Linked DNA regions of Homo sapiens. The protein of the gene in region 4 purifies or fractionates together with the protein of the main gene of each other region. This does not show direct contact. Each region holds a gene or a part of one and is shown on either strand. Other genes may lie near its edges. The genes, in order: ABCD3, HDLBP, OXSR1, USP32, GAPVD1, ANKHD1 and EIF2AK2.

What was found.
Region 1: the proteins of USP32 (region 4) and ABCD3 purify together in Homo sapiens (affinity purification with mass spectrometry; one large-scale study listed by BioGRID and IntAct). This does not show direct contact.
Region 2: the proteins of USP32 (region 4) and HDLBP purify together in Homo sapiens (affinity purification with mass spectrometry; one large-scale study listed by BioGRID and IntAct). This does not show direct contact.
Region 3: the proteins of USP32 (region 4) and OXSR1 purify together in Homo sapiens (affinity purification with mass spectrometry; one large-scale study listed by BioGRID and IntAct). This does not show direct contact.
Region 5: the proteins of USP32 (region 4) and GAPVD1 purify together in Homo sapiens (affinity purification with mass spectrometry; one large-scale study listed by BioGRID and IntAct). This does not show direct contact.
Region 6: the proteins of USP32 (region 4) and ANKHD1 purify together in Homo sapiens (affinity purification with mass spectrometry, with the first as the bait; one large-scale study listed by BioGRID). This does not show direct contact.
Region 7: the proteins of USP32 (region 4) and EIF2AK2 purify together in Homo sapiens (affinity purification with mass spectrometry; one large-scale study listed by BioGRID and IntAct). This does not show direct contact.

The regions. Positions count from the first base shown.
Region 1 is NC_000001.11:94,501,889-94,505,388, reverse strand, and holds part of ABCD3 (ATP-binding cassette sub-family D member 3), read right to left. Parts: intron 1-3,500. UniProt on the Homo sapiens protein: Broad substrate specificity ATP-dependent transporter of the ATP-binding cassette (ABC) family that catalyzes the transport of long-chain fatty acids (LCFA)-CoA, dicarboxylic acids-CoA, long-branched-chain fatty acids-CoA and bile acids from the cytosol to the peroxisome lumen for beta-oxydation.
Region 2 is NC_000002.12:241,228,673-241,232,172, forward strand, and holds part of HDLBP (vigilin), read right to left. Parts: intron 2,273-3,500; coding exon 2,087-2,272; intron 1,598-2,086; coding exon 1,481-1,597; intron 1,290-1,480; coding exon 1,161-1,289; intron 1,016-1,160; coding exon 929-1,015; 3' UTR 1-928. UniProt on the Homo sapiens protein: Appears to play a role in cell sterol metabolism. It may function to protect cells from over-accumulation of cholesterol.
Region 3 is NC_000003.12:38,252,537-38,255,984, reverse strand, and holds the end of OXSR1 (serine/threonine-protein kinase OSR1), read right to left. Parts: intron 3,169-3,448; coding exon 3,094-3,168; 3' UTR 501-3,093; downstream 1-500. UniProt on the Homo sapiens protein: Effector serine/threonine-protein kinase component of the WNK-SPAK/OSR1 kinase cascade, which is involved in various processes, such as ion transport, response to hypertonic stress and blood pressure.
Region 4 is NC_000017.11:60,210,634-60,214,133, forward strand, and holds part of USP32 (ubiquitin carboxyl-terminal hydrolase 32), read right to left. Parts: intron 3,030-3,500; coding exon 2,948-3,029; intron 1,466-2,947; coding exon 1,391-1,465; intron 882-1,390; coding exon 743-881; intron 486-742; coding exon 380-485; intron 1-379. UniProt on the Homo sapiens protein: Deubiquitinase that can remove conjugated ubiquitin from target proteins, such as RAB7A and LAMTOR1.
Region 5 is NC_000009.12:125,352,326-125,355,825, forward strand, and holds part of GAPVD1 (GTPase-activating protein and VPS9 domain-containing protein 1), read left to right. Parts: intron 1-2,328; coding exon 2,329-2,516; intron 2,517-3,318; coding exon 3,319-3,500. UniProt on the Homo sapiens protein: Acts both as a GTPase-activating protein (GAP) and a guanine nucleotide exchange factor (GEF), and participates in various processes such as endocytosis, insulin receptor internalization or LC2A4/GLUT4 trafficking.
Region 6 is NC_000005.10:140,502,833-140,506,332, reverse strand, and holds part of ANKHD1 (ankyrin repeat and KH domain-containing protein 1), read right to left. Parts: intron 1,513-3,500; coding exon 1,367-1,512; intron 1,212-1,366; coding exon 1,100-1,211; intron 610-1,099; coding exon 464-609; intron 1-463. Other genes in the region: ANKHD1-EIF4EBP3 protein, read right to left, coding at 464-609, 1,100-1,211, 1,367-1,512. UniProt on the Homo sapiens protein: May play a role as a scaffolding protein that may be associated with the abnormal phenotype of leukemia cells. Isoform 2 may possess an antiapoptotic effect and protect cells during normal cell survival through its regulation of caspases.
Region 7 is NC_000002.12:37,146,981-37,150,480, forward strand, and holds part of EIF2AK2 (interferon-induced, double-stranded RNA-activated protein kinase), read right to left. Parts: intron 2,325-3,500; exon of another isoform or gene 2,044-2,324; 5' UTR 1,877-2,043; exon of another isoform or gene 1,514-1,876; intron 1,426-1,513; exon of another isoform or gene 1,392-1,425; intron 843-1,391; 5' UTR 827-842; coding exon 708-826; intron 1-707.

The DNA.
Region 1 (3,500 bases), on a different chromosome or scaffold from region 4:
AAAAAAAAAAAAAAAAATTAGCCAAGCATGGTGGTGTTCATCTGTGGTTCCAACTACTCAGGAGGCTAAGACAGGAGGGCTTGAGCCCAGTAGGTCAAGGCTCAAGGCTGTAGTGAGCTATGATCAGGCCACTGCACTCCAGCCTGGCTGAAACAGCAAGACGCTATCTCAAAAAACAAACATTTTAAATTTAAAACATTTAAAAAATTAAAAATAAAAATTCCTCTTTGAGTTTCTACTTGGGTATCTCACAGGACTCTCAAACGTTAAAAGTCTAAAACTCAAATGTAATTTCTAGATTTTCCCTCTAAAATCCATTCCCTTCCCTAATCTTGAACACTTCAGCAAATGAAACTATCAAACAGTTGCTCCAGCTAGAAAGCCAGGAGTCCTCCCTGGTCTGGTCCTTCCCTTTTCCTCTTCCCTTTCACTCTCCCACAGCTATTTTTAAAATGAACTAAAAAGTCCATTCAAGAAAGAAATGTGAAGTTTCAAGTTCACTCACTTTTCCTCATCTCCACAAACATGCCCTTAGCCCAGAGCACACTCATCTCCTGTCTGGATAGACTACAAGTAGCCTCCTACCACTTCTGCTGCTCCTCTCCAGTCCACTCTCCATGTAACCAGAGAACATCTTTCACAAATGTCAATCAGGGAACTTCACTCTCTGGCTTAAAACCCTTCAACAACTTCCCATTTCACTTAAAACTCAAACTCCTTACCACAGTCTACAAGACCTGCACAATCTTATTTCTACTCACGCTCTAACCCCAACATTCTAGCCAACACCGCCTCCTCTCAACTGCTAGGAACAAGGTGCTTTACACCTTAGAGCCTTAAACACACATCATTCTTTTCTGATGTCTCAAATGCCTTATTCTGTTCCTTAGAGCTTTCAGATTTCTGCTTATAATGTCATCTCAGGCAAACCTACCCTCATCCCTAGCCACAATCCAAGTGGGTCCTTTCTGTAACACCTCTGAAGCACTTCATATATAATCCCAGCACTTTGTGGGGCTGAGGAGGGCAGATCACTTGAGGCTAGGAGTTCGAGACTAGCCTGGCCAACATGGTGAAACCTCGTATCTACTAAAAATACAAAAATTAGCCAGTCATGGTGGTGCATACCTGTAGTCCCAGCTACCTGGGAGGCTGAGGAACAAGAATTGCTTGTACCTGGCCGGGCGCAGCAGCTCACGCCTGTAATCCCAGCACTTTGGGAGGCTGAGGCAGGCAGATCACAAGGTTAGGAGTTCAAGACAAGCCTGGCCAACATAGTGAAACCCTGTCTCTACTAAAAATACAAAAATTAGCTGGGCATGGTGATGCGTGCCTGTAGTCCCAGCTACTCAGGAGGCTGAGGCAGGAGAATCGCTTGAACCCAGGAGGTGGAGGTTATAGTAAGCTGAGATCGTGCCAGTGTACTCCAGCTTCGGCAACAGAGTGAGACTTTGTCTCAAAAAAAAAAAAAAAAAAAAAAAAGAATCACTTGTACCTGAGAGGTGAAGGTTGCAGTGAGCCAAGATTGTGCCACTGCACTCCAGCCTAGGTGAAACAGTGAGACTGCCTCAAAAAAAAAAAAAAAATTCAGAAAAGCAGAGACTGTTTTAATCACTACCATGTACTTGACACTTATATATGGGTAGCATTCAACTATCTAATAAATGAATGACTAAAACAGCTTTCCACCTGTTTGCATGAAGTGAGGAAGGGGAGGCAGCAAGTATAGACTATGAAGAAGTTCAACTGTGCAGAAAATGAAAGGTACAGATCACAGAGAAGCTTTGGCTAAGGCAGAGTTTGCTTTTTAGATCAAAGAGACCTGAAAAATGTCTTTCCACAAGAGAAGGACTAGAAGAGGTTAAATGTAGGTGGGGGCTGCGGGAGGGGATATAACTGAAGGAAAAGGATGTGATAAAGTCAGAAGACAGAGGCTCCATAAACATAGATGGAAGTATTTGCCTTTCTCAAGAAGGATGACATATCCTCCAAGACAGCGGAAGTAGGGAGGTCAGGACAGAGCAGCACACAGTTAATTAAGAGGAATGGTTATCTGAGGGCATTCCACCAATGCCTCTCCTCTCTGCTCCCAAAGGACTCTCTGCGTACATTCATCACCACACTTACTACATGACATGGACATTTTCTCAACATGTGTCTCTCTCGCTCCCACTATGCTGTCAGCTACTTAATGCCACAATACAAGAAAGTTGTAAAGCAGGAGTGTCCAATTTTTTGGTTTCCCTGGGCCACACTGGAAGAATAAGAATTGTCTTGGGCCACACATAAAATACACTACCACTAACGATATCTGATGAGCTTAAAAAAAATTACACACACAAAAAAATCTCATAAGATTTTAAGAAAGTTTATGAATTTGTGTTAGGTTGCATTCAAAGCTGTCCTGGGCTGCATGTGTCCGTGAGCCACAGGTTGGACAAGCTTGTTGTAAAGTGAATAAGCATATGCACACTGCAGCCATACTGCTTGCCTAAGCCTGACAAAGCCCCCACCACCAGCTTTAACATTTACTAGCTGTCTTTGCTTGGCCAGCTACTGAATTGCACAAAAGTTCAATTTCCTCTGTAAAATGGGGCGCGGCGGCTCACGCATGAAATCCCAGCACATTGGGAGGTCGAAGCAGGTGGATCACTTGAGGTCAGGAGCTCGAGACCAGCCTGGCCAACATGGTGAAACCCCATCTCTACAAAAAAAAATACAAAAATTAGCCAGGCGTGGTGGTGCATGCCTGTAATCCCAGCTACTTGGGAGGCTGAGGCAGGAGAATCTCTTGAACCTGGGAGGCAGAGATTACGGTAAGCTGAGATTGTGCCACTGCACTCCGGCCTGGGCGACAGAATGAGACTCTGTCTCAAAAAAAAAAAAAAAAACTAGGGGGGCATTCCCAGTTCTTACCTCACAGGACTGTTGTGAGGATGAAATGAGATCACCTGTGTAAGGTGCCTGACATACTGTCTGTCATCTTTTCAGCACTCAATAAAAATTAGCTGTCATTTAATTGAAATAATAGCCTATCTTTCTTTGAAAAGTAGAAGGCGAGTTATTCTGCCAAGTGCAGTGGGTTAAGTAACGGGGTAGAAAACCCAAAATTGGTAGTTTTAAAATGATTGTCATGAAAAATGAGAGAAGGATAAAAATAAGTAAAATGATTGCTAAGCCATGCTGTGAGCCCATCTGATGTTTTTTAGCTGTGCTCAGAAGAGCGGTTAGAGAAGTGCCAAGGCAAATAACTGGGCTGGGATTTAGGTAATACGATGACACAAAAAGTGGGAAAGGAAGTTAAGGGGAAGGGATGAACTGTTCATTCCTTAAGAAATATATCTTATCTCCTATGGGCCACACCCTGGATTATGAAGTCTGTACTGGACAGGAAAGGAGGCAGAGACAGAAAAGGACTGAACAATTGTAAGGAAAGGGAAGGATTAATATTCTAGAGATCTCAGGGAATTTGAGAAAGGGGGATAGTTGCTAATTTAAGG
Region 2 (3,500 bases), on a different chromosome or scaffold from region 4:
CACTCCACGCCGGCTGAGGTAGAAAGAAGGCAACTGAACACACAGCAGCTAGGGCAGGGGCAGGGAGGGGCTGCAGGTGGTGTGAAGAAGAGCCCAGCTGTCATCTAAGGCAAACTGCCCCCACTGAGGACAAGCGTAAGGCCCTACCTCCCCCAACCTGTGCGCATCTCAATCACAGCAGACACTGTGACGGCCACAGGGGACCCAGATGGTGCCTACCACCTTGCCTCCAGGCTCCACTCACCAGACCTCAGGCTGAGGGTCTGGCAGTGGAGGTAGGGGCAGGGACCCTTGGTGCTTTCAGACCCCACGGCAGGTAAAATCAGGACTGCCTGAGAACCCGTCACCCTCTGCCTCTCAGGTCACCCCCCAGCTCCAGGAACCTGCCTCCTGCTGTCCATTGCCAGGTCTTCCTTGCACCCTGACACCTGTGCTGAGGCGCTCTGGCAGCTGGAGGAGGCTGATTGCACTCCACAAACAGGACTGTCTGGACCAAGGGAAACTGGCAGGAGGGAGGTGGGAAAGGAAGAGGGCAAACGTTTGGCTTTTATAAAGTCAAGGACGTTTATTTCCTGAGGTCATGACACAGGAAGTGGAATCCTAGCCACGGCTGCGGAGCTCTCGTGATGAAGGCCAGAGTGCTGACTGACATGCCGGGTGGACCAGGAGCTGGAGTCTGTTATCTTAGCACGAATGCTCATGACCTTGGTTTAGTGTTAAACAGTGGAGCAGGTCCTGAGCGGGCACGGCCAGGCCTGGAGGAGCGGCCGCACACACAGCCAGGCGCTAGGCTCCCTGCGGGACCTCGGGAAGGGGGAAGAGCGTCAACAATTTACGGAGGGTCCAGCCGCTGGGTCAGATTGAGACAAACCATTGTGTGGTTGGGTTTGGGTCAGCAGGCTGGAGAGGGTTCTGTTCTTTTTGATCATTATCGTTTGGGGCCCCAAGGGAGGGTCTTGGGAGCCACCTGAGCCCCAAAGCTGGGAAATTCCTCAGAGCTGCTCATGTCAGGAGCCTGTGCAGAGAGAGGACACGGCTTCAGGAGGGGATGCTCCCCAACTCGCAAGCAGCTTCCGACGCAGTTGCCACCCTCAGGACACCAAGCCCGCCTGCCCGCCCACCCTCCCTGGGACCCAGGAGGGCAGAAGCCCGCATCTGACCTTCTCACTGCTGCTGGCGGTCCAGGGTGCGTCCCGCACCACAAAGCCTCTGGAAGGTGCCTTGGCCTCTTCGTGTGCTGGGGGTTTCATGTATACCTGCAGCGCCTCACTGTCCACCACGTCAGCTAGCTGCAGGCAGAAGACAGGAAGACAGGGTCAGTCTGCCCAGCACCCCCAGCATCCCGCCCGCCTGCTCACCCCTGCACCTCGCCTGCCTCTGGAAACACAAGTGCCACCTTGTCCCCTGAAGCTCCTGGCTGGGCCTCAGGCCGGTGGACGTGCCAGGGCGCCTCAGGGCTCCAAGGCCCACAGAGACTCACGTATTCCTCCTCCAGATTGAGGATGTGGTCGATGGCTTCCTCCACATTCTCTGGGAGCCCCGTCACAGTGACGCAGTTGGGGTCTGGGGCTCCGCTCTGTGGGAAGCGAATGTCCACCTGGAAGGGGTGTACAACGTCAGATGAGGGGACTCCAAGCGAGGAAAAGGGTTAAAATTATGTGTCAATTTCTAGTGAAGCATTTTCTGAGTTAGCAAACGTTTTAAAATCTGGTTTCAGAGTTGTTCTGAAGTCAGTCAGCCTCATCACCACACCAAGTTAGGTGTATCTCAGGAGCACCTTGTTCCCAGCAGACAGAGGGCCGCAGCACGTACTGTGCGCTCTTGCATGAAATTCCCACCCACAGAGGACGAGCTCGCCAGGCAGCTGTCAAGGAGATGCCCTCCTAATGGCCACCGTGGCAGTGCAGCCTCACACAGGCCGTCGCCTGCACTGACCCGTGGTGTCCATGAGGACAGTTCCACTGCCAGCCCTGGGGTTGTGGCCTCATCATCTTGAGGGGAAGGCCATGCCCTGCTCTTTCTTCTGGCCAGCCAGGTGCCCCCGGTGAGAGAGGATTCTCACCCACTGTGCTTCCAGCCGGCTCACCTTGAATTCGTCCATGATTTTGCGAATGGCTTTGCCGCGGGCACCAATGATGCGGGCGTGAACGCGGTGGTCCAGCGGGACGTCCTCAGAAACCATCTGCTCAAGTTCACCCACAATTCTCAGTATAGCATCCCTGGCAGCTTCTGTGTTCTTTTCGTACCCTGTGATGGTAATTTGGTCCTGGGGCTAAAAAAGGAGAATGTAGTCAGAAAAGGGGATGCCTTACTGGGATTCCCGTCAGGGGCAAGAGCCGGCCCCCACTGCTGAGGAAAACAGCTCAGGAGAGAAGATGGAAAGCAACGTCACGGCTGATTTAAAACAAGAGGTTAACAATGTCCACTCAGGGCCGGGCACGGTGGCTCACGCCTGTAATCCCAGCACTTTGGGAGGCCGAGGCAGGCGGATCACCTGAGGTCCGGAATTCGTGACCAGCCTGACCAACATGGAGAAACCCCGCCTCTACTAAAAATACAATATTAGCCGGGCGTGGTGGTGCACGCCTGTAATCCCAGCTACTCCCGGGGCTGAGGCACGAGAATTGCTTGAACCCGGGAGGCGGAGGTTGCTGTGAGCCGAGATTGCGCCACTGCACTCCAGCCTGGGCAACAGAGCAAAACTCCATCTCAAAAAAAAAAAAACAAAAAAAAAACACCCCACAAAAAACCTATGTCCACTCAGCTTCCATCTCTTCCCAAACTCTACCCAAAAGACAGTGAATTACAGAACGAAAAAGGACATTTGTCCTCAAAGACAAAGGAGAGACACTAACAGGCAAGAATTCTGGACTCAAGGACAGCGGGGCAAAGACAAAGCCCCAAGCCCCTCAGCTTCCTGCTTCTTTGCCCACGTGGGCCACAGTCTGGAGGCATCTTTGTGCTGGAGGCTGGAGGCTGGCTGGCATTCCTCAGCGAGCCCCTCCCTCACTCAGAGATCCCACCTGCTCAGGCCTTCCTTGGGCCACACAAATGGACAGGAGACACCATACCAGACTTGGGATAGCAGACAAGCAGACCAAGCAGACAGTTCAGGGCATAGAGAAGGAAACGTGGTAACAAAACACCTGTAGCCCACAATCGGCGAAAACAACATGTCCACAACACAAAAACCACCATGCAACAGGACTAGAGGACGGGGACAAATCACAACCATCACGCAACAGGACTAGAGGACAGGGACAAATCACAACACGGAACCATCATCACGCAACAGGACTAGAGGACAGGGACAAATGCCTGGAAAGGAAATGAGCAGAAAGACCTAACCTAGAGACAACAGAGCAGCAGCCCAAGAAGCTTCTGTCCAGATTGAAGCAAAATGCCAGAGTGGGAGGCAGCAGCCCCACCCACCGTGGCCCAGCAGAGCTGACAGCCTCAGGCACCACCCGCGTGCTGCCAGGTACAGAACCTCAAGATCG
Region 3 (3,448 bases), on a different chromosome or scaffold from region 4:
GCCACTGCTGTTGGGAAGGGCAGATGATGAGGGAAGATTCCTCCTGCAGTGGGAGGATAACAGGAATACAAAGGAGCCTAGAATCTTACATGTAACTTCACCATTGCAATATCAAAGCCAAGAAGAGATAAGTTCAGCCCTGTTCTGAACTTTCGAAAGAGACTCCCAAGGGCTTGAATCTGGCATCCTTCCTTGCCCAACAGCATAAGCAAAACCAAAGATTTAAAAAAGATCAAAAGATAATAAAAGGAGTTCCATATCCCATCCTATCCAATTCCTTGGGCTGATCTCATCCCTCCCTTTTAGGGTTGCAGTTTCCCCAACTATATAATGGCTTTAATGGTTCTAGATAATTTGTAGATCAACAGACACACTTTACAGTTTATATGTACTTTGGCTTCTATTCGCATGAACAATTAAAGTTGGTGGTGATTCCTTGACCCACAACCCACAGCTCTCCGCCAACGGCCACTAAAATAAAGCGTCCATACACCACTAAGGACAATTTACTCTTTATTGATTAAAAATGAAGAAAACATGCAGTAAAATACAAAGTCCAAAAAAAGGAGGAAAAAGTTGAATATTTTACATCTTCCATAACCTAGCATACATCATAAGGAGGAATCTCCACTTATTGGTACATCATTATTCTCTCCTCCAGATTATTAAATATTATCAGCTGGCTCTAGGATTTGGTTCAAAACTTAAGCAAAAACCCAACAAATCCTTTAGTCGTTTAGAAAGACCAAACATTTCACAAATAGCATTGGCACATATTACTTTGTGCTATAGTTAGTCCCTACTCCAGGGACAAGGGGATCCTGGGACCTAGTCAAAGAGGTGCACTCTGAATCAGCATTCCTAGAAAGGAGTACAGTCACTCACTAGGTTACGTGCTGTTCCACCTGGGCAGTTTCTGTTCATGTATTTTCTCAGTATCACTGCACAAGCCAGCAAAGGGAGTCTACCACACATCATGCAGAAGAAGTAACACTGTCCTGGGACATGGTGTCTGTCTTCTAATTCCTAGCAGGGCAAACAATGAACTGAAAAGAAGGAGAAACCCCAGCCCAATTCTATTTGCCATGACTGCCCCACTGCAGTTCACAGGTAATGATGGGCTAGAGAAAGTGAACAGGGGATGGGCTGCTGCTCACTCCCAGCTAGGCACCAGACCATCTCCACAAAGAATGCTAGAACAGAGTGATGCTGCCACCCCTTGGATTCATAAATAAGTAGATTTTGATGGGTTTGAAAAAAAAAAAACAAAACTCTAAGGTAAGCGGTAAGCCACTAGTCTTGTGCCAAAGAAGATGCTATCTCTTTTCTATACCTCATTCCTACCTCCCCATCCTTGTTCCTCTCCGTCCCCCCTCCACAAAAAAAGAAAAAGAAAAGCTAAGTATTTTTCTAGCAAGCTGGTCAATCTTCTTTTCTCCCTCCTGGCTCAGCAGGCTCCCTCCTTTTACCAAGACTGCTGGGACGTTGAACTCCGGTGTCTGATCATCTCACCTACTCTCCTCCTAACTCCCAACTGAAATCCATCTCCTCTCTTCCTCCCCAACATCCATCTCTTTCCCAACATGCCTTTGCACCTAGAGCAGGTGAAGAAAGCCCATGACTAAAACTAAAGACTCAGAATGAAACAAAAGGTGTGACAAGTTATTTGTGGGGAAGGTTTTCAGATATGTTCCAAGAGAAAATAAGGTAAAACAACCTTGTTCATCAGACCAACAGTGCTGGAAAGGGCTCGAGTGATTCTGTAAAGGGCAACTCTCCCCCTTTCCAGGGACCCACAGCCCATCTTTGTGTATCTTTTTAAGGCCAGATTGAGTATCCCACTCATATATAAAACTCGGTAGGGTTACTAGCAGTTAGACAAAGACTATGAAACGGTAGGAAAAAAGAAAAATCAACCTCACTGATTATTCACATATTGCATTATGAGTGCTCTTTTTTAAACCTAAAGAATAATTTATATTATTTCTGTAGAAAATCAAATGAACACTGTCTACTCATAAAACCTAAAGGTCACGGCACATGTGGTTTCACTTTCCATCTTGAGTTAGCTTCAGCACACAGAGACCCCCTCCAAAGGGTCAGTGCAGGAGAGCAGGCAGAAGGCAGGCCTCTCTGGCCCAGTGTGTGTCTCCTTTATTGCTGTAGAAATCTCAGCCTTGCATACCCATTTCCTCACGACTTGGAGGCCAGGCGAACTGATTTTCATGGGAGGATTGAGTTTTTCTTCAATTTGATATTTGAAAATAAATACTTCTCCAATGATATGAATTATGATTTTCCTGTTCAAAAACCACCTCTGGCAAAATTCACATTTACAAGCCATTACTCGATGTTGTCTGTAAAAACAATCCAAAGTTCCACTTTGAAGGATCTGATGGCTGAAGTTCGGCTACAGTCAGATGTTTTGCACCAGCTGAAGTTAAGGCTAGCAACCCTTTCTGGAGAGAGCAATGAAGAAGGGGGTGCCTGAGAGCAGCTTCAGCAAAACGCTTAGAAACACCATGAACAAAACAAGAACACAGTTTAGGCTGCCTCCATCTGAGGCTGTGCTTTTTCCTAACAAAGGTTGCTAGAATTCACATCAGGTACAAAGAAAAAACATTAAATTAAATTCTCTGGGCTCCAGCTGAACAATCAATTCTACTTCAGTGGTAAAGAGATATCCCAAGATGTCCATATCCTGGCAGGTGTGGGGGAACAGGCAGGATGAGGAAGCCCGATACAGCTGCTACTTTTCCACCTGGGCCATCATTGGAGTAAGGCAAGAATGAGCTGACAGATCTCCCTCCTGGGCCTTGAAGCACATGGGCCACTTCTCAGATGGAGGAAGACAGGGGACATATGAAGTAAGTTTACTAACGGAACTCTGGGGATGCTGGCCACTAGTGATCCAACTTTTCTTTCCCTGTGGGAAAAGGAGGAATGATGGCAGGAAGAACATAAAGACTTCTAAAGCTCCTAGCCGGGAGGTTTGTTGCTGGGTTCTTTGGCAGTAGTGGGTTTAGGCCAATAGAAGCAACAGAGATACGCATGTGTGGAATCTCCTTAGGCCGCCTCTTCCAGGGTTGTGGTTTAGCTGATGCTGAGCTGGGCAAATCCTATCAGTTTACCATCATCAGGAATATCTGAGCCTTCGACACCAGATGCCTAAGAACCAAACAAAATGAGAAACTGTGATTATTTATAAACAAACTTGCAGGTAGCAAATAAAACAGACATGGGATAGTGGGAAGGTAGGCAGTGGGCAACAGGTCCCTAGGATACAAATAGGAGACTGACGAAGGTGTTTATTCCAGAAAAGAGGGGGGCTGGGTAAACAGCTAGAGTCAGACTGGCTAATAGTTTCTCTTATGAATAGCCAAGGGTCTCTGGGGTCAGAGGTTTCCTGGCATGGACAGAGGAAGAGTGGCCACTCAAAGGGAAACAT
Region 4 (3,500 bases):
TATCTTAGTTACGTTGAAAATGGATTGGATTGGATGTAATTAATAAGACTCTGAGGTCCACCTTGCAGTTAGAATACTGCTAATAGTGAAGTATTACCAAAAAAGGTTTACTCTTCATATAAGATGTTTGACAAATTAGTAAAATGAATGACATCCCGAATTTAGAGTGTACCTTTGGTCTTTATCCTACCCACTACATATACAGTAGTAATTTTGCATATATTTAAACAAGCAAAAGAATTTGACCTTTTGTTTATACCAAGTGAAGGATCCAAAAACATTTATTAAGTTAAAAGGCTAAACACAAAAAACAAGCAGAGAAAAATGATTAAACAACTATTAGGAATTAAATACTTTTATATTATTTTAACCTGCTTACCCGAAGCTTTAATGGGGCAACATTCTTCTGAGTTCCACTCCAAAGTTCCTGCACTAAATCACCATAGCATTTAGCCATATGCCCCTTCATACCAATGGGATTTGTCCTAGAAGTTTGAGAGGAAAATTTGTTGCCAAAGATTCTCATAAATCACAATCATGTGGGCGCAAAAATGCCTAGCATCTCACATCAAAATATCTTTTCTTTTTGAAACAAGAGATGTATTCCTTGGCCTATTTCATATTAAATAGGGCAAATAAGATAAAATCTTTCTCCCACAGGGTGAAAAAAGAGGAAATTTAGGTGATATTGGGTTTATATCAAAGTCACAGGTTAAGAGGCCAGTGACTCCAGAAAGATTACCTGTTGAGTTCATAAAGATGTCTCCCTGAGATAAAATACTGTGTCAGTGGCTGTGTGTTACTAACACACTGGATGCTTGAGTTCATGAAGCATGTGTTTCCCAGATTGCTTAGACCTGTGGCTCCCTTTTCTGTGGGAACTGGAACAAACAATATGAGAACCAAAGCTTAGCTGTAGTAATATGCCATGGCACAAACAGTTACTTATATTCAATGAAAAGGTTTTTTATAACTCTCATAATCAGCTAAATGGTGCTAATAATTCTCTAGCAGGTCTCTGAAATGCTAGAGAAGGCTTTTCATGGAGTGTCTGGCAACAGTGATGATCCATGCTCATTTGTAACCCAGAAGCAGCAATTATTCTTTTTAATTGCTATGATTTTTCAAAATAATTCAAACAATTCTTCTTCTAGTATGTCTTTTAAAACATATAAATTATTTAATTGCAGAGTTAGAAAGAAATTTAGAAAATAATTTGATGGTGGGTTTGCCAACATCAAATGCTGCTTCAGGAAAAAAGAAAAAGAAGAAGGCCCTAATTACTTTTGAACTAGAAAACCAAAAGTTGTTAGCACTTTAACAGTTGAGAGAAGAAAAAAAAAGAATACATTTAAAATAATCTCTTTAAAAAATAATACTGGAGACTTACCCTTGTGTCTATCTATTTTACTACTATTTGCTATAAAAGACATCTCCTCAGGCCAACTCATATCTTTGTTGCGAACTGGAAGGACAGATAGGAATGTGTTAATTTCTTATCTATCTAATTTATACCCATTCGATTGCTTTTTTTTTTTAAAGACATCTTATTCCTAAATCAGAAGTTTTAAAATCTAGTTAATTTTAGTACATACATTGCTTAACGACGAGGTTATATTCTGAGAAATGCATCATTAGGTGATTTTGTCTTTGTGTGAACATCACAGAGTGTACCTACACAAACCTAGGCTATGTATGGTATAGGCTGTCGCTCCTTGGCTACAAACCTGTACAGTATGTTACTGCATTGAATACTGTAGGCAAGTGTAACACAATGGTAAGTATTTGTGTATCTAAACATGTTAGAACATAGAAAAGGCACAACTAAAAATACAGTATTATAATCTTATGGGACCACTGCTGTATACAGGTCTTTTGTTGACAAACATCTTTTTGCAGCACATGCCTGTAATTGGCTCTAAAACCATTCCTACTCTTCATATTGAGGACTTTAAAGTCACTTGGTTTGAATAATCTTATCCCTCAATTACCTACTTGAAGTAAAATTATACTCAACCATCTACAGAAGTAATTAAAGTTCAGAAACAATGGAATTTCTTATACTTAAAACATTAGAAATTACAATTCTTTCTTAAATTGTAACAACTGTCAGAGTAATTTATTCCTTTTTTTTTTTTTGAGACAGTCTGGCTTTGTCCCCCCAGGTTGGAGTGCAGTGATGTGATCTTGAGTCACTGCAACCTCCGCCTCCTGGGCTTGACTGATTCTCGTGCCTCAGCTTCCTGAGTAGCTGGGACTACAGGCACGTGCCACCACACCCAGCTAATTTTTGTATTTTTAGCAGAGACAGATTTCACCATGTTGTCCAGGCTGGTCTGGAACTCCTGACCTCAAGTGATCCACCCATCTCAGCCTCCCAAAGTGCTGGGATTACAGGCGTGAGCCACTGCGCCCGGCCTATTCATTTTAATACAAAGGCAGCTAACAATGTTGCCACAAAACTTGATGGGAAAAGATACACTTAAAAAGTTTTTAATGGCATGTGCATGCCAGTGTGTAAATCTATGAATATACAAATAGCTCTGTCAGTGAGTAGCCAATGTTGGTGACTAATGAAAGCCTGTGCTACTAACTATGCAAGAAAGTTGTTCTTTTTACTCAAACTCAAAGCAGCAACTTGAAAATTTTAAGGAACTATAAATGTGTAAACTGAATTCACTTGTTTTTTATCTACCATTCCCATTCTTTGTCAGTCAATGACTAAAAACAGAATATTTTCCCTTTAAAGCAATCTAAATTGTATGGTAGGATTACATAAGAGTTCAAAGGGTTTTCTTTTTCTTTTTTTTCCAAAGGGTTTCTTTATCATAAAAACATAATAATCAAATAATAGTTGTTTTGGAGAAAATTATAAAATGGGTTATTAGTAACTCTTTAAATTCTTCCCCTTGAAAATTTAATATAGATGCATGCTTCCATCTTGTACCTTCAATTACCAGGTGTTGTTCATCCTGGATTTTCAAATATTCCAATTTATGATCCTCATCATCCAGAAGAGTAAGGTAGTTCTGTGTAAGGAGGAGGAAATGTTTTTGTTATTTGGTTAGTAAACTTGAAACAAATACAGAGATAAAAATGAGTAACAATTAAAAAAACAACTTCTTTGTAGTTATATAACATATCACAAATATCTGGCCTACTATAGTTGTTCATAAATATTTATAACTTAGGTGGCAGTATGACAGAAAGACAATGTGTACTTCATAAGCGTTATCTTTCTCTTTTTTAAAATTTCAATAGGTTTTTGGGGAACAGGTGGTGTTTGGTTACATGAATACGTTTTGTTTTTTGTTTTTTTTTTTTTTAAAGATGGAGTCTGGCTCTGTTGCCCAGGCTGGAGTATAGTGGCACTATCTTGGCTCACTGCAACCTCTGCCTCTGGGTTCAAGCAATTCTCCTGCCTCAGCCTTCTGAGTAGCTGGGACTACAGGCTCCCACCGCCATGCCCAGCTAATTTTTGTATTTTTAGTAGAGACAGG
Region 5 (3,500 bases), on a different chromosome or scaffold from region 4:
CTTCTGCCTGGGCATCCAGGCGTTTCTATACATCTTTTGAAATCTAGGTGGAGGTTCCCAAACCCCATTCTTGACTTCTGTGCACCCACAGGCTCAACACCTCATGGAATCTGCCGAGGCTTGGGGCTTGCACTCTCTGAAGCCACAGCCTGAGCTCTGTGTTGGCCCCTTTCAGCCATGGCTAGAGCGGCCGGAGGGCAGGGCACCAAGTCCCTAGGCTGCACACAGCATGGGGACCCTGGGCCTGGCCCATGAAACCATTTTTCCTCCTAGGCCTCTGGGCCTGTGATGAGAGGGTCTGCCATGGAGACCTCTGACATGCCCTGGAGACATTTTCCCCATTGTCTTGGGAATTAATATTCAGCTCCTCATTACTTATGCAAATTTCTATAGCCAGCGTGAATTTCTTCTCAGAAAATGGGATTTTGTTTTCTATCGCATTGTCAGGCTGCAAAGTTTCTGAACGTTTATGCTCTGTTTCCCTTATAAAACTGTATGCTGGCCAGCATGGTAGCTCATGCCTGTAATCCTAGCACTTTGGGAGGCCAAGGCAGGTGGATCACCCGAGGTCAGGAGTTCAAGACCAGCCTGGCTGACATGGTGAAACTCTGTCTCTCCTAAAAATACAAAAAATTAGCTAGGTATGGTGGTGGGTTCCTGTAATCCTAGCTACTTGGGAGGCTGAGACAGGAGAATCGCTTGAACCTGGAAGCGGAGGTTACAGTGAGCTGAGATCACGCCACTGCACTCCAGGCTGGGCAACAAGAGTGAAACTCTGTCTCAAGAAAAAAAAAAAAATGAATACCTTTAATAGCACCCAAGTCACCTCTTGAATGCTTTGCTGCTTAGAAATTTCTTCTGCCAGATACTCTAAATCATCTTTCTCAAGTTCAAAGTTCCACAAATCTCTAGGGCAAGGGCAAAATGCCACCAGTGTCTTTGCTAAAACATAACAAGAGTCACCTTTGCACCAGTTCCCAACAAGTTCCTCATCTCCACCTCAGCCTGGACCTTATCGTTCATATCACTGTCAGCATTTTCGTCAAAGCCATTCAACAAATCTCTAGGAAGTTCCATACTTTCCCACATTTTCCTGTCTTCTTCTGAGCCCTCCAAACTGTTCCATCCTCTGCCTGTTACCCAGTTCCAAAGCTGCTTTCACATTTTCGGGTGTCTTTTTAGCAGTACCCCACTCTCGGTACCAATTTACTGTATTTGTCTGTTATTATGCTGCTGATAAAGACATACCTGAGACTGGGCAATTTAACAAAAGAAAGAGGTTTAATTGGACTTAACAGTTCCATGTGGCTGGGGAGGCCTCAAAATTATGGCGGAAAGTGAAAGGCACATTTCACATGGCAGCAGACAAGAGAAGAGAGCTTGTGCAGGGAAATTCCGTTTTTTAAAACAATCAGATCTCTTGAGACTTAGTATCACGAGAACAGCACAGGAAAGACATGCCTCCATGATTCAATTCCCTCCCACAACACATGGAAATTCAAGATGAGATGTGGGTGGGGAATACAGCCAAATCATATCAATTTCTAAGCAACATATTTGGATATTTACTCTGGAAATGTAGTTACAAATGAGCAGTTCCAAATAGAAGAGTGCAATTTACTTCAGCTTTGCACAAAAGCAGGTAAAGAGGTATGCCTATATTTTGAGGCTAGAACAACTAGAATATCATATTTCTTTTCTTAGTGGTGATAGGAAAGCCTACTTTCCTGGACCAGAGAAGCAGATGTAAGTAGCCTTAGGAATTGCTGTGCTTTTTCTGCTGCCAGTCCCCTGCTCATGATTATGGAGAAAAATGTAACTGAGATGCTTAGGTAGTGAGGAGGCTTCAAGGCTTAGGGAATGGGCACTCTAGTAAATGTGACATTTAGACTATAAGCAAGTAATTGGTGGGGGATGTTTGTGACCTAGTGACATATAACCTGTATTTGTTGTTATTGTTGGTCATCTGTAGCTGTCAATTTCCTATTAAGTATGAGGTCCTATAGCTCCAGTATAAAATACACCAAGTATGCAGAGGGGCTTAGTAACATTTAGTGAATTAGGTAACTAAGTCTTCAGCCCCATAGATCCTCCCAAACAAAATGCAAAATGGGTGTCTGTTCTGCAGCTGGCACCATGATCAGTCTCTACCATGTCTGCAGCCTGACATGCTACTTTGTATATGTGCTACTGAAGAGAGCACAGACATGCTACTTTGTAAAACCAGTCTGTGCAGTAATTTTTCTAAAGAAAAGTTAGGACCCTTATTCTTCAAAGAGAGTATGCACTGAATATATCTGATGTCATGCAAAGTATTTTTCCTTTTAGAAAAAGAGCCCCATATATTGCTTATCTCACTCGTTGTCGACAAGGACTACAGACCACACAGGCTCACCTGGAAAGGCTATTGCAAAGAGTTTTGCGGGACAAAGAAGTGGCCAATCGATACTTTACCACTGTCTGTGTGAGATTACTGCTTGAGAGCAAAGAAAAGAAGATCAGGGAATTCATTCAAGGTAACTCAATACCTTTAGTTTAAGCATCTCTTCACCTGTAATACTGTTGGGAAGATTTAGAAATACTGTTTTGTTTTGCTAGTTTGTTCAAGTATCTGCATGCCTTAAATACCCAATTATTTTATGGAATCTTAATAAATTAAACTTTGATGTCAAACCAATAAATTGCATTTTTCTCCTGGATTGAATATCTGTAGCTTACTTTTTAAATTGGGGACATTGGTAAATTTTTGGATCTATACAAATTTTCTCATTTTTTTTAAAAAGCCAAACATATTTTTTTTAGAAACTTTTGAGACGGAGTCTTGCTCTGTCGCCAGGCTGGAGTACAGTGGCGTGATCTCGGCTCACTGCAACCTCTGTCTCCCTGGTAGCTGCCTCAGCCTCCCAAGTAGCTGGGATTATAGGCACGTGCCACCACGCCCAGCTAATTTTCATATCTTTAGTAGAGATGGGGTTTCACCATGTTGGCCAGAATGGTCTCAATCTCCTGACCTCGTGATCCGCCCACCTCGGCTTCCCAAAGTGCTGGGATTACAGGCGTGAGCCACTGTGCCTGGCCTAGAAACATATTTTTATAACAAATTCCTTGCACTTAAACTTTCACATATTTCTTGCTTTTTCTCCTGATTTAATTATATGGCTACATATTGTCCTAAAATAAACTACACTGAAACACTTTTGGCTTTAAGATCATGGTGTCTGCATAGCTAGTGATTAAAATTATTTCTATGATTTCCTTTTTAAAATTATTTAGATAGTTTTTATTAAACTATTTAAAAATTATTATTTTGCTTTGGAGACTTTCAGAAACTCACCGCAGCTGACGATAAAACTGCTCAGGTAGAAGATTTTCTGCAGTTTCTTTATGGTGCAATGGCCCAGGATGTCATATGGCAAAACGCGAGTGAAGAACAGCTTCAAGATGCACAGCTGGCCATTGAGCGAAGCGTGATGAACCGGATTTTCAAGCTCGCCTTCTAC
Region 6 (3,500 bases), on a different chromosome or scaffold from region 4:
CCCTCCACAAACCCCCGCCAAAAAAAAAGGGCATTTACATTCCCATAAAAGTTAACAGAAGTACCCATTCCTCAGAAAGTATATGGAACATGTTAAAATACGTGCAGGGCCAGGCATGCTGGCCCATAACTATAATCCCTGTACTTTGGGAGGCCGAGGAGAGAGGATTGCTTGAGGCCAGGAGTTTGAAATCGGCCAGGGCAACATTACATGACCCCATCTCTACAAAACAGCCCTAGCTACTTGGGAGGCTGAGGATTGCTTGAGCCCCAGAGTTCAAGGTTATAGCGAGCTGTAATTGCACCACTGTACTCTAGCCTGGGAGACAGAGCAAGACCCTGCCTCAGAAAAACAAACACACAAAATACATGCAAATTTTATTCATGTAGCTAAAATACGAATCATATGCATATTTTAAAATACAAGCAAAATATTTACAAAATGAAAATTAACATTAACACACCTCCTGACGTCCACCAGAACATGCCAATGAAAGCGGAGTATCCTTAGTTCGTTCAGACTGTGCTTCTATATCTCCACCTTTATCCAAAAGGATTTCAACAACTCCAACATGCCCTGCTGTTGCTGCCAGGATTAGTGGTGTGAAACCTAAATCAGAAAATGAAAATCTTAAACAAATTTATGTTTTTTATTTTATTTTAAAGCCACTGTTTACAATTCTCTAGTATTTTAGCAAAATAAATCCTTCAGGGCAGACACTGATAATGAGTTAACATAAAACTGCTCTAAACCCTAATTTGTTAGTGACAAAAAACCCATAAACACCTAATTAAAAAACTAAGTCGGTAAAAATTATTAAAGTTTATACTCATAATGAACTTTGATGCCTCTGTATGAACTACCTTTGGATTAACAAAGGCAACCACAACTTGCTCTATTTCACTAATGATCTACGTCTAATTTTTGAATGTTTTGAGAATTATTTGGCTCCGCAGAATAATGAATCCAGATATTCCTAACTGAAATATACTTATCCATCTTATCACTGAGATAGTCTAGGAACTATTTATCAATAATAAAAAAGTTAATTATTTTCTGATGTAACTACACTTGGATTTTATTTCTGACTGATATTTACCTTTTTTGTCTCTGTGTTCAATTTTGGCATCCCGTGCAATGAGCACAGATACAAGTTCTTCATGACCACCTGCACAAGCTAGTGTTAATGCTGTGTCATGATTGCTCTCAGTCTAGGAGAAGAAAAAAATAAGTTAAAATTTTTTTTAACAGAAGTTATCAATTTAAGAGCAAATAATATTTCTTTTCACAATAAATGCAGAATAATTTTCCTTTCCAAAGAAGATCAGAATGTGCAAAATAAGTTTAAATAAAGCAATCTACTCACATGTGCATCAATGTCAACTGAAGGATACACAGGAGGCATCGATTGGGAAGCCACATTGCTTGTAGTCTGCGAACAGGATTCAGGTGTAAGACACTCTGTGGTCTGAGAAGAACTGTTGGAACCAGTGGGCACTCTGGTACTCACAGCTGAAAAACAATATTCATATTGCTAAATTCCACTTAAAAGAGTAAGGTTATTTGTACATAGAAAAACACAAAAACAGAAATTTCCATAGCAGTAATATGTAGTAATAGTAAAATCACAAGCTTTGGAATCAGACAGACCTACATTTAAATATTAGTTCCAACACTGACTTTCTGATCTTGGGCAAGTAATTTAACTTCTCTGAGCTTCAATTTTCCCTATATGTAGAATGGCGAAAATAATGGTACCTGCCTTGGAAGGTTATTGGAAAGACCACTGAGGCAATGCAGATAAAATACTTAACACAGCACCTGATATTTAGTGCACATACATTAAATAGTAGCTTTTTGCATTGCCAACAGGGAGGAAAAAAAATTTCCAAAAATAAAAGTAAATAAAAGGAATTCTAGATTTTAGTTTGTAAAAAAGTCAATTAGATAAAAATATCCTGTGTACAATTCAAAAAAAGGGGGCTGGGCGCAGTGGCCCACGCCTGTAATCCCAGCACTTTGGGAGGCCGAGGCGGGTGAATCACCTGAGGTCAGGAGTTTGAGACCAGCCTGGCCAACATGGTGAAACCCCATCTCTACTAAAAAAAACAGAAAGTTAGCCAGGTGTGGTGGTACATGCCTGTAATCCCAGCTACTTGGGAGGCTGAGGCAGAAGAATTGCTTGAACCCAGGTGGAGGCTGCAGTGAGCTGAGATCACGCCACTGCCCTCCAGCCTGGGTGACAGAGCTAGACTACATCTAAAAAAAAGGGTGGGGGAGGGGAGGGAGACAAGTTCAAGTATTTCTCACATAAATAGCAGGGAGTATGTGTTTCCTAAATTCAATATTTATTTTGAAACTTTGTTAAAAAATCAGTATCTGAAAGTCCAACTATTTTTAAAATGAACATTGAAGTTCTATTTGAGATCTCAAAATGTGGTTTGAAAACTGAGTTAAGTCCAGGAGCGATGGCTCACGCCTATAATCCTGGCACTTTGGGAGGCTGAGGTGGGCAGATCACCTCAGGTCAGGAGGGTTGGGAGTTCAGGACCAGCCTGGCTACCATGGCAAAACCCCGTCTCTACTAAAAACACAAAGTTAGCTGGGAGTGGTGGAACGCGCCTGTAAGCCCAGCTACTCGGGAGGCTGAGCCAGGAGAATCGCTTTAACCTGGGAGGCGGAGGTTGCAGTGAGCTAGGATCGCACCACTGCACTCCAGCATGGGCAACAGAGTGAGACTCCATCTCAAAAAAAAAAAAAAAAAAAAAAAAAAAAAAAAGAAAGAAAACTGAGTTAAAAGAAATTATGTATTTTATATCTCTGAAAATTTCTTATGTTTCTTAAGAGATGGAGTTTGACCACGGGGGGAAACAGGACCTATCTCAGGGATGTTGTGAGTAGTCTAAGAGATACTGTATATAAAGCATTTAACACAGTGTTTTTAGCAAATGGTGGGTGCTCAATAGATGTAACTATCAGATATTTTATAGGATTGTCAATACTATTATTCATTGTATTGAAAAATAAAAACATTATTCACTCAAGAAAGGAAAAACTCAGAAAAAAACATATAATCAGTAATAATATACAAAAAAATCAACAAAGCATCAGTGATGGCAATAACCTTACATTTGCACCCAGATTAAAAGTCAGTCAAAAACACGTAGGACTTAAAGAAAAATGTAAGCATTTTAAGTGTTGGAAAATATTTTCTCTCTAGAATTTTTGATATGACTAGATCCCATTCAAAGATACTATTCGTAAGTGTGAATGACTCAGTTTAGTAGATTACTAGTTTAAATAAGTGAGCAAAGTTTAAGATGCCCAGATATATTTCTACATGAGCTACCCAGCTCATCCCCACCAACATATATAACCATCTTGGCAATACAAATTTCTCCAGCTTCTGTCATCACATAAATAACATAATTTAACTATTTAGTTACAAATAGGAATAATTATTACATATGTTTGTTTCACCTATAAGAATATGCAAAATG
Region 7 (3,500 bases), on a different chromosome or scaffold from region 4:
CAAAGAGAATATTCATAAAATATTATACAACTCATGCACTATCTAAAAACAAGTACTCTAGTCATCACTACCTCCTATGACTACCTTTGAGGGTTTGAACCTACATTCAATATAGCATTTAAGCAGTCACCTCAAACAGTAAAGCAGCATGTCTTGTTGAAGCATGGAAAGGTTTCTACCCTCTTTTCTCTCTGGAGTCAACTGTGGCTCCACCATGGTTCCCACTTTATGCCAAGAGCACTCTCACAAAACTAAAGTGTTGACCTCAAAGTTGTGCCAGAGTTGCCATTCCCCCAGCTTACATTTATAAGGTCATATCTTTTTTCTTTTTTTTTTAATTTTATTATTATTATACTTTAAGTTTTAGGGTACATGTGCACAACGTGCAGGTTACATATGTATACATGTGCCATGTTGGTGTGCTGCACCCATTAACTCGTCATTTAGCATTAGGTATATCTCCTAATGCTATCCCTCCCCCCTCCCCCCACCCCACAACAGTCCCTGGTGTGTGATGTTCCCCTTCCTGTGTCCATGTGTTCTCATTGCTCAGTTCTCACCTATGAGTGAGAACATGCGGTGTTTGGTTTTTTTGTCCTTGCGATAGTTTGCTGAGAATAATGGTTTCCAGCTTCATCCATGTCCCTACAAAGGACATGAACTCATCATTTTTTATGGCTGCCATATCATTTTTTATAGCAACCTACCTCCTATCATGTGGAGGTCCTGAATTAGGCAGTTCTTGATATTTAAGTACTACTCCCTGCTTCTGACGGTATGTATTAAGTTCCTCCATGAAGAAACCTGCTGAAAGATCACCAGCCATTTCTTCTTCCCGTATCCTACAATGGAAGAGACATTTGAATGAGTGATGCTCACAGAACATATTTAATCTGAGTTTCCCAATGCAGTTTAGGAGACAGAGGGGTTGGGGAGACTCCCCTTTATAGGACTCATCTCAGTCTCACATAAATGCAGAGACTTTCTTTCAAAACCGTTCTTTCTTTCTCATTCACTGCACAATAAAGTTAATTTCTCCAAAATTTTCTACTTTAAAAACTCAACTTGGCCAGGTGTGGTGGCTCACGCCTATAATCCCAGCCAAGGTGGGCGGATCACCTGAGCTCAGGAGTTCGAGACCAGCCTGGGCAACATGGCGAAACCCCATCTCAATTTTGAAATTGTTTTAAAAAATAAAGGAAAGAAAAAAAACTCAACTGGTCAGTGAAAGGGGGTCCTTCTCTTTAACTCTGCTCTGTGCTTCCACTGAGTATCAACTACATGTTTGCCTACCTGCTTAAAAAAGTAAAAAGGCTGCAGGATTGTAGAATGTTTTATGTTGAGAAGAAAAAGATTTAGAGTATATATAATAAGTGAAGTGGAGTGGTAGCATGGGGACAGGCTGGGAAATGAACGGGCAGGCAAGTGTGCCTGTGTGGACGTGGATCCTGCCGGAAGCCAGGCGGAGGAGAGCTCAAGCTAAGGGTGATCAGCCCGTGACCTAGATCTCTAGACAAAATAAAACAAGGAAAATATGCTAGAATCAACAATGATGGATCGATAGTTGCAGTCCAGCTTCGTACTACAAATGAGTGCCATAAAACCTACTATACTTGTCACACAGGTTTTAAGATGTTGCAAGAATTGTCATCAAATGACATGCTTTTACTTCAACTTAGAACTGGAAGGACACTTTCTAGGAACAATACAATTTGCTTTCATCACATAAAAATTTATATTGACAGATTTGAGGATTTACAGAAGTCGTGTTGTGACCCATTTAACATACACAAAAAACTAGCCCCCCAGAATTTGCATGTAATTGACTTAGATGATGCCACTTTTCTGAGTGCAAAATTCGGAAGACCGCTTGTACCTGGTTGGAAGCTTTGTCCAAAATGCACGCAGATAATCACGGAAGTGTGGATGTTGATTCTGAAGACCGCCAGAGAAGCAAACCTGAGTCAGATGGAAGAACTGCTAAAGTTTTGAGGTCATTACAATTTACAAATCCAGGAAGGCAAACTGAATTTGCTCCAGAAACTGGTAAAAGAGAAAAAAGAAGGCTTAAAAAAATGCAACCGCTGGTTCAGACAGACGAGTGATACCAGCGAAGACTAAGGTCTATGATAGCCAGGGTCTCCTGATTTTTATTGGGATGGACCTCGATGCCTCGATGAAGATTGTTTAGGATGTTTCTATGCTTGTCGTGCCTGTGGTTCTACCAAGTGTGGAGCTGAATGCCACTGTGACCGCAAGTCACAAAGTATGAGCAAACTGAAATTGAAGGAGGAGAAATAATTCATTATAAACATGCTGGATAATCTGTGGTATCAAACTATGGGGCCTTTAAAGGTCTTTATTTCTAAAATTCGGTTACTCTAAGATACATTTTAAGCTTGATTGTCAAATGACAAAGATTTTAAAAGCACCTCAATGTGCACGAATTTTTCATCTTGGGTGCTTTAAGATTCACTATTTGATATAAATTCAGATAGCCTATTTCTCAGTAGTCAGCATTAAGCCTGCCTGGACCAATATAAACATGTAGGGTGTAGGCAGGTCCTCAATGTGCACGGTTCCCATGGCACAAATTTCAGTGACCTAGATTTAGTTTAAATACCAGTTTCCTTACCAGGAAGGAAAGGAAACTGGTAAGGAAACTGGTGTTGTTTAAACCTAGGTTAAAATTTTAGGTAGCACAGTATAACTCTGAGTAATTACAGGAAGTACAAACTTCTCTGCTAGTTCTTCAGTCTACAAATCACGATGTAAATAACAGATATGCTTCATGATCAGTGACCAGTCGTGTTACTTGTTTCAAATTCTTCCAGTGGTTGGTCCCTGTGCATCTGTTAATCAGTTCACTCACAGCAGAGCACGTAGTTACACTGTCTCTTTGTCCTCCACCTGACATTTTATAGAAGTGAACAATCGAAAGAACTGGCCAACAAAGATGAAAGTCCAACAAAGCAACGAAAAATGATAACACTGGAAGTGAAATTTGAATCAAACATAAATGGATTTGTAGAAGAAGTCACTGATCATGGGAATGTTCTTCCTGCTGTGCATTCATAGGAGCTTAGTGAAGGCAAACTTATCAACACAAATAAGAAAAGTGATTGCAATAAAGATAAATATGTCCCAGAGGAAGTGACGGTAAAAAAAAAAAAAAAACAAACTTCACACTAAAGAGCATTTAATGTGAATACAGAAATACTTCACAACATTGAAAGCACAAGCAATAAAAGGCTGGAAGCTCACCCAAACTTAAAAGGAGTATGACAGTTTGCCATGAATAGAAAAGATGCTTACTCAGTATCATAAGTCACTTGGCAGAAAAAAAAGGCAATCCCTATTCAAACTACTTAGTTTTCACAATGAAATAAAACACTTTAATTCTATTTTTAATGTTTTAAATTACAGTGTACTAAATATTTTTAAATTTTTTTTGCATTTTTTTCTACATTTATAACTGACCTTAAGAGTTTTAATATTTT